2 separate regions of the Homo sapiens genome follow, and region 2 is linked to region 1. Evidence: fine-mapped expression QTL. A gene starts in region 1. The other region holds a variant in brackets. All regions are shown on one strand. Distances are between the middles of the regions. Region 1 holds the start of RFX5 (regulatory factor X5). Region 2 overlaps PIP5K1A (phosphatidylinositol-4-phosphate 5-kinase type 1 alpha).

Evidence for each region. PIP is the estimated chance that this variant, and not a neighbour inherited with it, causes the effect. A credible set is the group of variants that fine-mapping cannot tell apart.
Region 2: its variant is the best candidate, but not a certain one, in a credible set for the expression of RFX5 in whole blood (INTERVAL, PIP 0.51).

The regions. Positions count from the first base shown.
Region 1 is chr1:151,345,499-151,349,865 of GRCh38, reverse strand. RFX5 (regulatory factor X5) reads left to right here and starts at 2,614. Exons shown (of 11, transcript NM_001025603.2): 1 at 2,614-2,655; 2 at 3,260-3,377; 3 at 3,533-3,661; 4 at 3,905-3,938. The coding sequence starts at 3,546. It overlaps RFX5-AS1 (RFX5 antisense RNA 1), which reads right to left and starts at 2,856. Exons shown (of 2, transcript NR_131972.1): 1 at 2,678-2,856; 2 at 1,975-2,234. RefSeq lists enhancers at 2,200-2,549, 2,516-3,098, 2,153-3,352, 3,692-3,781.
Region 2 is chr1:151,223,756-151,228,145 of GRCh38, reverse strand. PIP5K1A (phosphatidylinositol-4-phosphate 5-kinase type 1 alpha) reads right to left here. Exons shown (of 16, transcript NM_001135638.2): 2 at 3,867-3,901; 3 at 3,740-3,775; 4 at 746-826. Among named protein-coding and RNA genes, the nearest start is that of PIP5K1A, 27 kb to the right of the region's middle. The variant T/C (reference allele first, on the strand shown) is at 1,818.

The DNA of each region.
Region 1 (4,367 bases):
TTTGTTTTTAGTAGAGACGGGGTTTCTCCATGTTGGTCAGGCTGGTCTCAAACTGACCTCAGGTGATCTGCCCACCTCAGCCTCCCAAAGTGCTGGGATTATAGGCATGAGCCACCACACCAGCCGGCTTTTTTTTTGTTTTTTGTTTGTTTGTTTGTTTTGAGACAGGGTCTTACTCTGTCACCCAGGCTGCACGACAGAGTGGTGCAATCATAGCTCACTGCAGCCTCGAACTCATGGGTAATAGTGATCCTCCTGCTTCAGCCTCCCAAGTTGCTGGAACCACAGGCATGTACCACCACACCTGGCTGTGTGTGGTGTGTGTGTGTGTGTGTGTGTGTGTGTGTGTGTGTGTGTGTGTGTGTGTTTAGAGAGAGACAGAGTCTCACTTTGTTGCCCAGGCTGGTCTCAAACTCCTGGCCCCAAGCAATCCTCTTGCCTTTGCCTCCCAAAGTATTGAGATTATAGGCATGAGCCATCATGTCCAGCCCGTTATACCCATATTTATTTATGAGTATCTGCAAATATGTATACATGCAGTCTAAGGCAGTGCTCAAAACAATCAGCTTTGAGGCAGACTGCCTGCCTTTGGATCCTGATTCTAGCACTTTCTACATATATGACTAAGGACAAGTCCCTTCACCTCTCCACATTGGTTTCCTCATCTGTAAAATGGAGACAGTAACAGTACCTACTTCAGAGAGTTGCTGTGAGCATTACACGAGGTGTTTAGCATTTGGTATGGTGTCTGATACCTAATAAACACCAAATAAATTTTTGTTTGTTTTTGTTTGAGACGGAGTTTCGCTCTTGTTGCCAGGCTGTAGTGTAATGGCACAATCCTCCGCCTCCCCAGTTCAAGTGATTCTCCTGCCTCAGCCTCCCGAGTAGCTGGGATTACAGGCATGCGCCACCACGCCCGGCTAATCTTGTATTTTTAGTAGAGACGGGGTTTCTTCATGTTGGTCAAGCTGGTCTCGAACTCCCAACCTTAGGTGATCCGCCCACCTCAGCCTCCCAAAGTTTTGGGATTACAGGCGTGAGCCACCGCGCCTGGCCTAATAAACACCAAATAAATTTTAGCTGTTATTAGAAAACCTGGCCAGGTGCAGTGGCTCACACCTGTAATCCCAGCACTTTGGGAGGCCAAGGCAGGTGGATCACCTGAAGTCAGGAGTTTGAGACCAGCCTGACCAACATGGTGAAACTCCGTCTCTACTAAAAACACAAAAATTATCTGGGCGTGGTGATGCACGTCTGTAAACCCAGTTACTCGGGAGGGTGAGGCAGGAGAATCGCTTGAACCCAGGAGGCGGAGGTTGCAGTGAGCCAAGATCGTGCCATTGCACTCCAGCCTGGGCAACAGAGCGAGACTCCGTCTCAAAGAAAAAAAAAAAAGAAAGAAAGAAAGAAAAAAGAAAACCTCTTGCCAATATATCCTTATTGCCCCAACTCCACAATCTCCTGGGTTCCCCCAGCACTCATAGAAGCTGATAATAGGGAAAGGTAGGCTGTAAAGGGCAATGGTGATGAGCTCAGGCAGCACTACTGTCTTCTTTACAAAAGCACATTAATGATGAGCCTGGAGAACATATTAGATGTCAGGATGGCAAATACAGTTTTGGTTGTAACATGACCGCTGCGCAAAACAAAATACATCCATGTAAGAGGCTTTCAACCTGGAGTCCATGACCTCTCTGAAATTAGATGCAAAACTTGGTCTCTGTGTGCATTTTTCATGGTAGAGGGTCCATTGCTTTTGTCTGATTCATAACCTTAAAATGTCTTAAGTAAGAGGGTTAAGAACCCATGACCTATTCAGTACAATGTTCCCTGAGTGTAAAAAGTTCCTGTGGCATCCAGCACCCCCGTGGGAGTCCATCAAAATTCCAGGGTTCACCGACTGCAGAACTATGGGGATGCAAATGCATTTGCAACTCTTTGGAAGTAAAGTACACACGGGAAACCAAGAAATACTAAGAGGGAAAAAGCATTTTAGTTTAATGGGTACAACTGCTGAGGTTTTGAGGCCTCCATCAAGAAGGAAAAGAGAGCCCAGATTGCAGGTCTGTTGCGAGTAAGTGTGTCTGCAGGTTGTATTAGGCATGTGGTGATGGTGATGGGGGGTTATAGGAGCTTACAGTGAACTTCCATCACTCCTACCCATCATTGTCTAGTTATTTTATCATCCATTGATTCTTCTCTTCCGGCAGCTCTGAGGACCGTAGACTAAACTGAAACACAAAAGGGGAGGGCAAAAGAAAAGACAGTTCCAAAGGGAGCCGAGCGCCCGTTCTTTCATCCTGCGGTCCCTTTAAGAGAAGAACCTCTTGGGACCTGCAGTCCCAACCGACCCCAGTTTTAACCGAAACCCAACCCGGACTTCCCCCTCTTGACTCAAATAAGACCAACTTTGGATTTTCCCTCCCCTATTGACCAATCAGATTCTGTTACCAGGCAGACTTCAGCGGCCGCCGGTACGAGCCCGGCGCCTTCTGTCTCCGGGTGGCAGCAGTGACCAATGACAGAGCAGGCCGCCCGTGTATCTAGGCAGATCGCGGCTGTTACAACCATTCAGAAAAAGGAAAATAAAGCAACGCACGAGCCGGCTGGGCCAGGACCTTGGGGCTGGGCTGGAGTGAAGGTGGCTACGAGGTAGTTTCTCTTTCTCCCTTACCTTTATTGTTGCTTGTGTTGGAAGGCGACTGTTCAGAGGTAGGGAGGGGCAAGATGAGTTGGGAGGAGAGCAGAAAAAGATTGTAGCTGTATTTTCAACAGCTTCTTCACCCATGTGCACGTGCCCGGAATCTGGGACCCCATTCCCCTGCCGGGTTTCTGACGCCCAGCGCATGAGTTCCGCTACCCCGCCCCACCCCCGCTCCACTTTGCAGAAACCGGGGATTGAATGGAGGGGGAAGGGAAGGAGGTGGGGGCGCGCCTCAGGATGGGCTGTTGTGGGAGATGACGTAGGGGCCGGCGACGTGGGGAGGGGGAGCAGCGGGGGAAGTCGTGGCGAGATTAAGTAATGAGAACTTGGGCCCAGTTTTTTTTCCAAGCCTAGAAGGGCAGAATATGTTCGTATCCTTTCTGACCTCCCAGGCATATGCAATGGTGAGGAGTATTTTTGAGAATTAGAGAACTTTGTTTTGTGGCTGTTATTGTTGTTTTTGAGGGGGAGGAGGGCAGTATGGGGTCAGAGGCAGAAATGAAAATTTCTTGCTAACATGGATTCCCAATCCCCCTATCTCTTCCTTTACAGTTTTCCAGATTTAGGAGACTTCAGAAAGGTGGGGCAGATAGAATGGAGATGGCAAAGATCTCTTTGGGCATATATGGGCCTGGCGAAGTAATGGAATAATTTCTAATTTTCGGAGAAGGCAAGTGGTGAGAAAAAGACCACCGGGGAAATTCGGAGGCTTTGTTTCTGTTTCTCTGCCTTTCTGGGTAAAGAGATGAGGAGTGCCCTGGGGCCTTCTGGGGAAGGGAAGGCCAGTGTGAGTTACATCTTTATGCCTGTCCCTCTCAATTCTAGCCCTCATGCCGGGATGGCAGAAGATGAGCCTGATGCTAAGAGCCCCAAGACTGGGGGAAGGGCCCCCCCAGGTGGTGCTGAGGCTGGGGAACCTACCACCCTTCTTCAGAGGCTCCGAGGTACCATTTCGTAAGTACTCATCACATCTCCAAGTCCTGTCCAAGACCTGAGTATAGATCCCTGCAGCACTTCACTTTGGCTGTAGATGAACTGCCTCTCAGCAAGGGCATGGGAGCAGAGGGAGATTTTTGGCCATGGTAGCAATTCTTGAGCACCTGCTGGGCATTTCAGTCCTTTTCCCTCCCTAGCAGTCAGATAAAGAGACAGGGAAAATCTTGTGTGTGACCTCCAGCTTTCTCCTCTTCCCCACAGCAAGGCCGTGCAGAACAAAGTAGAGGGGATCCTGGTAAGTGTGTTGGGGAAGAGGGCAAGAGAGGGATGGAAATGCTGAGGGAGGAGGATGTGAGGATGATGGGCATCAACAAAACATTGATGTGGGAGAGGTAGGGTCCTCTGCCTTGTCAGAAGATAGTTGGCTTTGCAAACTTGCTGCCAGTTTGACTTTGTGCCTCTCACTTGATCTCTGTGAGCACTTGCATAGAAGCCCAGCAGAGATGAAGTCAGAGCTGATCCCCTCTACTTCCCTCCTCTCCATGGTAGCCTATAGGGCTCCTCAGAGCACCTAGCATCAAATAATTTCTTTCTTTTTTTTTTTTTTTTTTGAGATGGAGTCTCACTCTGTCGCCTAGGCTGGAGTGCAGTGGCGCAATCTCGGCTCACTGCAAGCTCCGCCTCCCAGGTTCACGCCATTCTCCTGCCTCAGCCTCCCAAGTAG
Region 2 (4,390 bases), 120 kb after region 1:
ATGGAAGAGAAAAAAAAGTCTGACCTATTGTGTATATTTGTATCAACAGGCTGGGCTGGGACCTGGCCCTCTATTGATATATACCCAGCAATGGACAAAAAGACAGAAAGACTGCGAGAGACATGGTTCCCTGTGGTAAGATAAGAATGGCTTTCATGGCCTTGTTACATATTTATACCTAACAGGGAAACCCAGTTTCTTCAGCTCAGTAAAATAGCAACCAATGCCAGATTTGTTCACTAATTTTTTTTTCTTTTGAGATGGAGTCTTGTTCTGTCACCAAGGCTAGTGCCACCAAGTGGCACAATTTGACCTCACTGCAACCTCCACCTCTCAGGTTCAAGCGATTCTCGTGCCTCAACATCCCGAGTAGCTGGGACCACAAGCGTGTGCCACCCAGCTAATTTTTGTATTTTTAGTAGAGACAGAGTTTCATCATGTTGGCCAGGTTGGTCTTGAACTCCTGGCCTAAAATGATCTGCCTGCCTCGGCTTCCCAAAGTGCTGGGATTACAGGCCTGGGGCACTGTGCCCAGCCAAAAAAAATCTCATTTAAACATTCATATACAAAAAGGAGACAATTTACCCTTTGAGAAATAAATCTAAAGTCTAAGCTGTATTATGTGCAAAAGCTTAGGAGATCAAGAAACAGGACAGTACATGGAGAGTAATTTCAAGGAGACTGAGTTCCCAGAGTAAGCTGCTGAGCTCCTGGAGTAAGATGAGACGGTTTCATCCAGACACACCTTTTTATATGTTGTCTCTCCTGAGGAATCAACACTTCTATGGCCTATTTTCTTGATGGGCATGCCAGAGGCATAAGGCACCTAGAAGAAGAGTCAAGATTATAATACAATTCCCATGTAAGACACCAAATAGCTACCACAATGGTACATCAAAACAAAATAAACTGAAACAACATATTCTTTCTAGATTAAAAACATTTTACAAAATCTTCAGATCTATCCCATGCAAATATACAGCTATAATGTTGGTTCCCAATGAATTAAGTGGCTAAAAGATCACAGAAGAAAACTCCAAGGGACACATATTTTCCCTTTGGTCCTCAGAAAGAAGACACAGAAAATAAAAGTGAGTATTTTTACTCTTTATTTTTTTGAAACAGAGTCTCGCTCTTGTTGCCCAGGCTGGAGTGCGGTGGCACAATCTCAGCTCACTGCAACCTCCACCTCCTCGGTTCAAGCAATTCTCTCGCCTCAGCCTCCCGAGCAGCTGGGATTATAGGTGCACACCACCACACCTGACTAATTTTTGTATTTTTAGTAGAGATGAGGTTTCACCATGTTGGCCAGGCTGATCTCAAATTGCTGACCTCAAGTGATCCACCTGCCTCAGCCTCCCAAAGTGCTGGGATTACAGGTGTGAGCCACCATGCCCGGCCAGAAAATAAGAGTACTTTTTTTTTTTTTTTTGAGACAGAGTTTCGCTTGTGTCGCCTGGGCTGGAGTGCAATGCCACGATCTCGGCTCACTGCAACCTCCACCTCCCGGGTTCAAGCGATTCTCCAGCCTCAGCCTCCCGAGTAGCTGAGATTACAGGAATGCACCACCACACCCAGCTAATTTTTTGTATTATTAGTAGAGATGGGGTTTCAACATGTTGACCAGGCTAGTCTCGAACTCCTGACCTCAGGTGATCCACTCGCCTTGGCCTCCCAAAGTGCTGGGATTATAGGTGTGAGGCACTGCACCCAACCAAAGGTGAGTATTTTTAAACAGTAGTAGAAACACAGCTCGGCGATGGCCGGGTGCGGTGGCTCACACCTGTAATACTAGCACTTTGGGAGGTGGAGGCAAG[T/C]GGATCACGAGGTCAGGAGTTCAAGACCAGCCTGGCCAAGATGTTGAAACCCTGTCTCTACTAAAAACACAAAAATTACCCAGGCGTGGTAGTAGGCACCTGTAATCCCAGCTACTCGGGAGGCTGAGGCAGAGAATTGCTTGAAACTGGGAGGTGGAGGTTGCAGTGAGCCGAGATCGCACCACTGCACTCCAGCCTGGGTGACAGAGCAAGACTCTGTCTCAAAAAAAAAAAAAAAGAAAAGAAACATAGCTGGGTGGTGTGGCATGCACCTGTAATCTCAGCTACTCAGAAGGCCAAGTGGGGAAGATCACTTGAGCCTAGGAGTTTGAGACCAGACTGGGCAACATGGCAAATCTCCATCTCCAACTAAAAATACAAAAAATTTGCCTGGCGTGGTGGCGTGCATCTCTAATCCCAGCTACTCAGGAGGCTGAGGCGGGAGAATCACTTGAATCCAGGAGGCAGAGGTTGCAGTGAGCCAAGATCATGCCACTGCACTCCAGCCTGGGCGACAGAGCGTGACTCTGTCTCAAAAAAAAAAAGAAAAAAGAAAAGAGGCCAGGCGCAGTGGCTCACACCTGTAATCCCAGCACATTGGGAGGCCAAGGCGGGTGGATCACCTGAGGTCAGGAGTTCAAAACCAGTCTGGTCAACAGGGTGAAACCCTGCCTCTACTAAAAATACAAAAATTAGGCGGGCATGGTGGCGTGCACCTGTAATCCCAGCTGCTTGGGAGGCTGAGGCAGGAGAACTGCCTGAACCTGGGAGGCAGAGGACATAGTGAGCCAAGATCGAGCCACTGTACTCCATACTGGGCAACAGAGCAAGACTTCATCTCAAAAAAAAAAAAGGCAAGAAGGGAGGAGTAAACCAGTATAGCAGTCTAGAAAGTTATCCCCAAGAGCCAAAATGCCAGAGCAACAGACATGAAGTTACTCTTCATAACATCAATACTCATTAAGTTTATAAGCCAGAAGGCTGAGAGACTAGTGGAAACAGGGTATCACAGTTTTTTTTTGAGACAGGGTGTCTCTGTCACCCAGGCTAGAGGGCAGTGGTGTGATAATGGCTCACTGCAGCCTCAACCTCCTGGGCTCAAGCAATCCCGAGTAGCTGGGACTATGGTGTGCACCTGGCTAATGTTTTATTTTTTTGTAGAACCAGGGTCTCACTATGTTGCACAGGCCTGTCTCGATCTCCTGGCCTCAAGCAATCCTCTCACCTTGGCCTCCCAAAGTGTTAGGATTACAAGCATGAGCAACCGTGACTGGCTGGATGTCCCAATCTTAAGACCTGATATTCAAGTTCTATTCTTTTAGCCAAGGCCCTTAGTACCAGAAAACTCTCAGTATATCACCTGACAGATGCTGGAAGATGTTCTGAGAGAAAGTTTGAAGTCCCAGGTCAAAAGGGCCTGCATTCTGAGGCCCCTTTCACAAAACCCAGGGGAGAGGCAAGAAGTGAGAAGAGGGTTAGGAAATACACCATGGGAAGAAAGTTGAGCAAAATGGCGATATTCTGGACAAAAAAGAGAAACTTGTGAAACTAACAGCTTCTGCATGGCTAAAAGTTCTTCATATTCATCGAAGGTATGCAATCAGGAGGCCATAACAGCAAAACAAAGAAAGTGAGCTTTAGTGTCAGACTGCCTGGGTTTGAATTTGAATCCCAGCTTTACTAATCCCACTTAGTAACTATGCAATCCTCACTTTCTTCATCTGTAAAACAGATAACAGTATTTGCCTCACTGTAGTTGTTTGAAGGATTAAATAAGAATATCTTAAAGGGCACTTAGGTACAGTATTTACTTTTTGGTATATATTGCATTTGGTACATTAAAAATGCTCAATAAATGTGAGATATTGTTAATATTTAAAATAAACTACAATAAAAGATGAGTTGCATAATTTCTAGCCTACCAATGAGATGTAAGAATCCTGTCTAGCTTCCAAGACCTAAGTAGAGAAAAAATAAAAATGTCATAAACAGGTTCCTTCTATCCCAGAATTAAGGTTTTAGTAACCATTGTATCAGTATGAAACTCACCTCAGATGCCATGGGTCTCTTGATTCCAGATGCTGCTAGGGGGGAAAAAAAAACAATCATAAGAGTGTATCACACACTCACATCTCTGTCAAGCATACTGAAACCATCAGAGTTTGAGTCAAACTAAACATAAGTATAAACTCCTGCCTCTTGCTCAGTAATACCAGATCCTTTTGGATAGCAACTGTGTATGTCCCTCTCTCCTTCTCCATACTCACATAGGCCTCGTGCATATTCCATTTTTATTCTAGACCCCTTTCTTATTCAAATATCCATATTTTCTCTGGGAAATATAACTTTTTCTTTTTTTTTGAGATGGAGTCTCACTCTATCGCCCAGGCTGGAGTGCAGTGGCATGACCTCAGCTCACTGCAAGTGATTCTCCTGCTCAGCCTCCTGAGTAGCAGGGATTACAGGCGCCTCCTACCACATTCAGCTAATTTTTGTGTTTTTAGTGGAGGCGGGATTTCACCATGATGGCTGGGCTGGTCTTGAACTCCTGACCTCAAATGATCCATCCACCT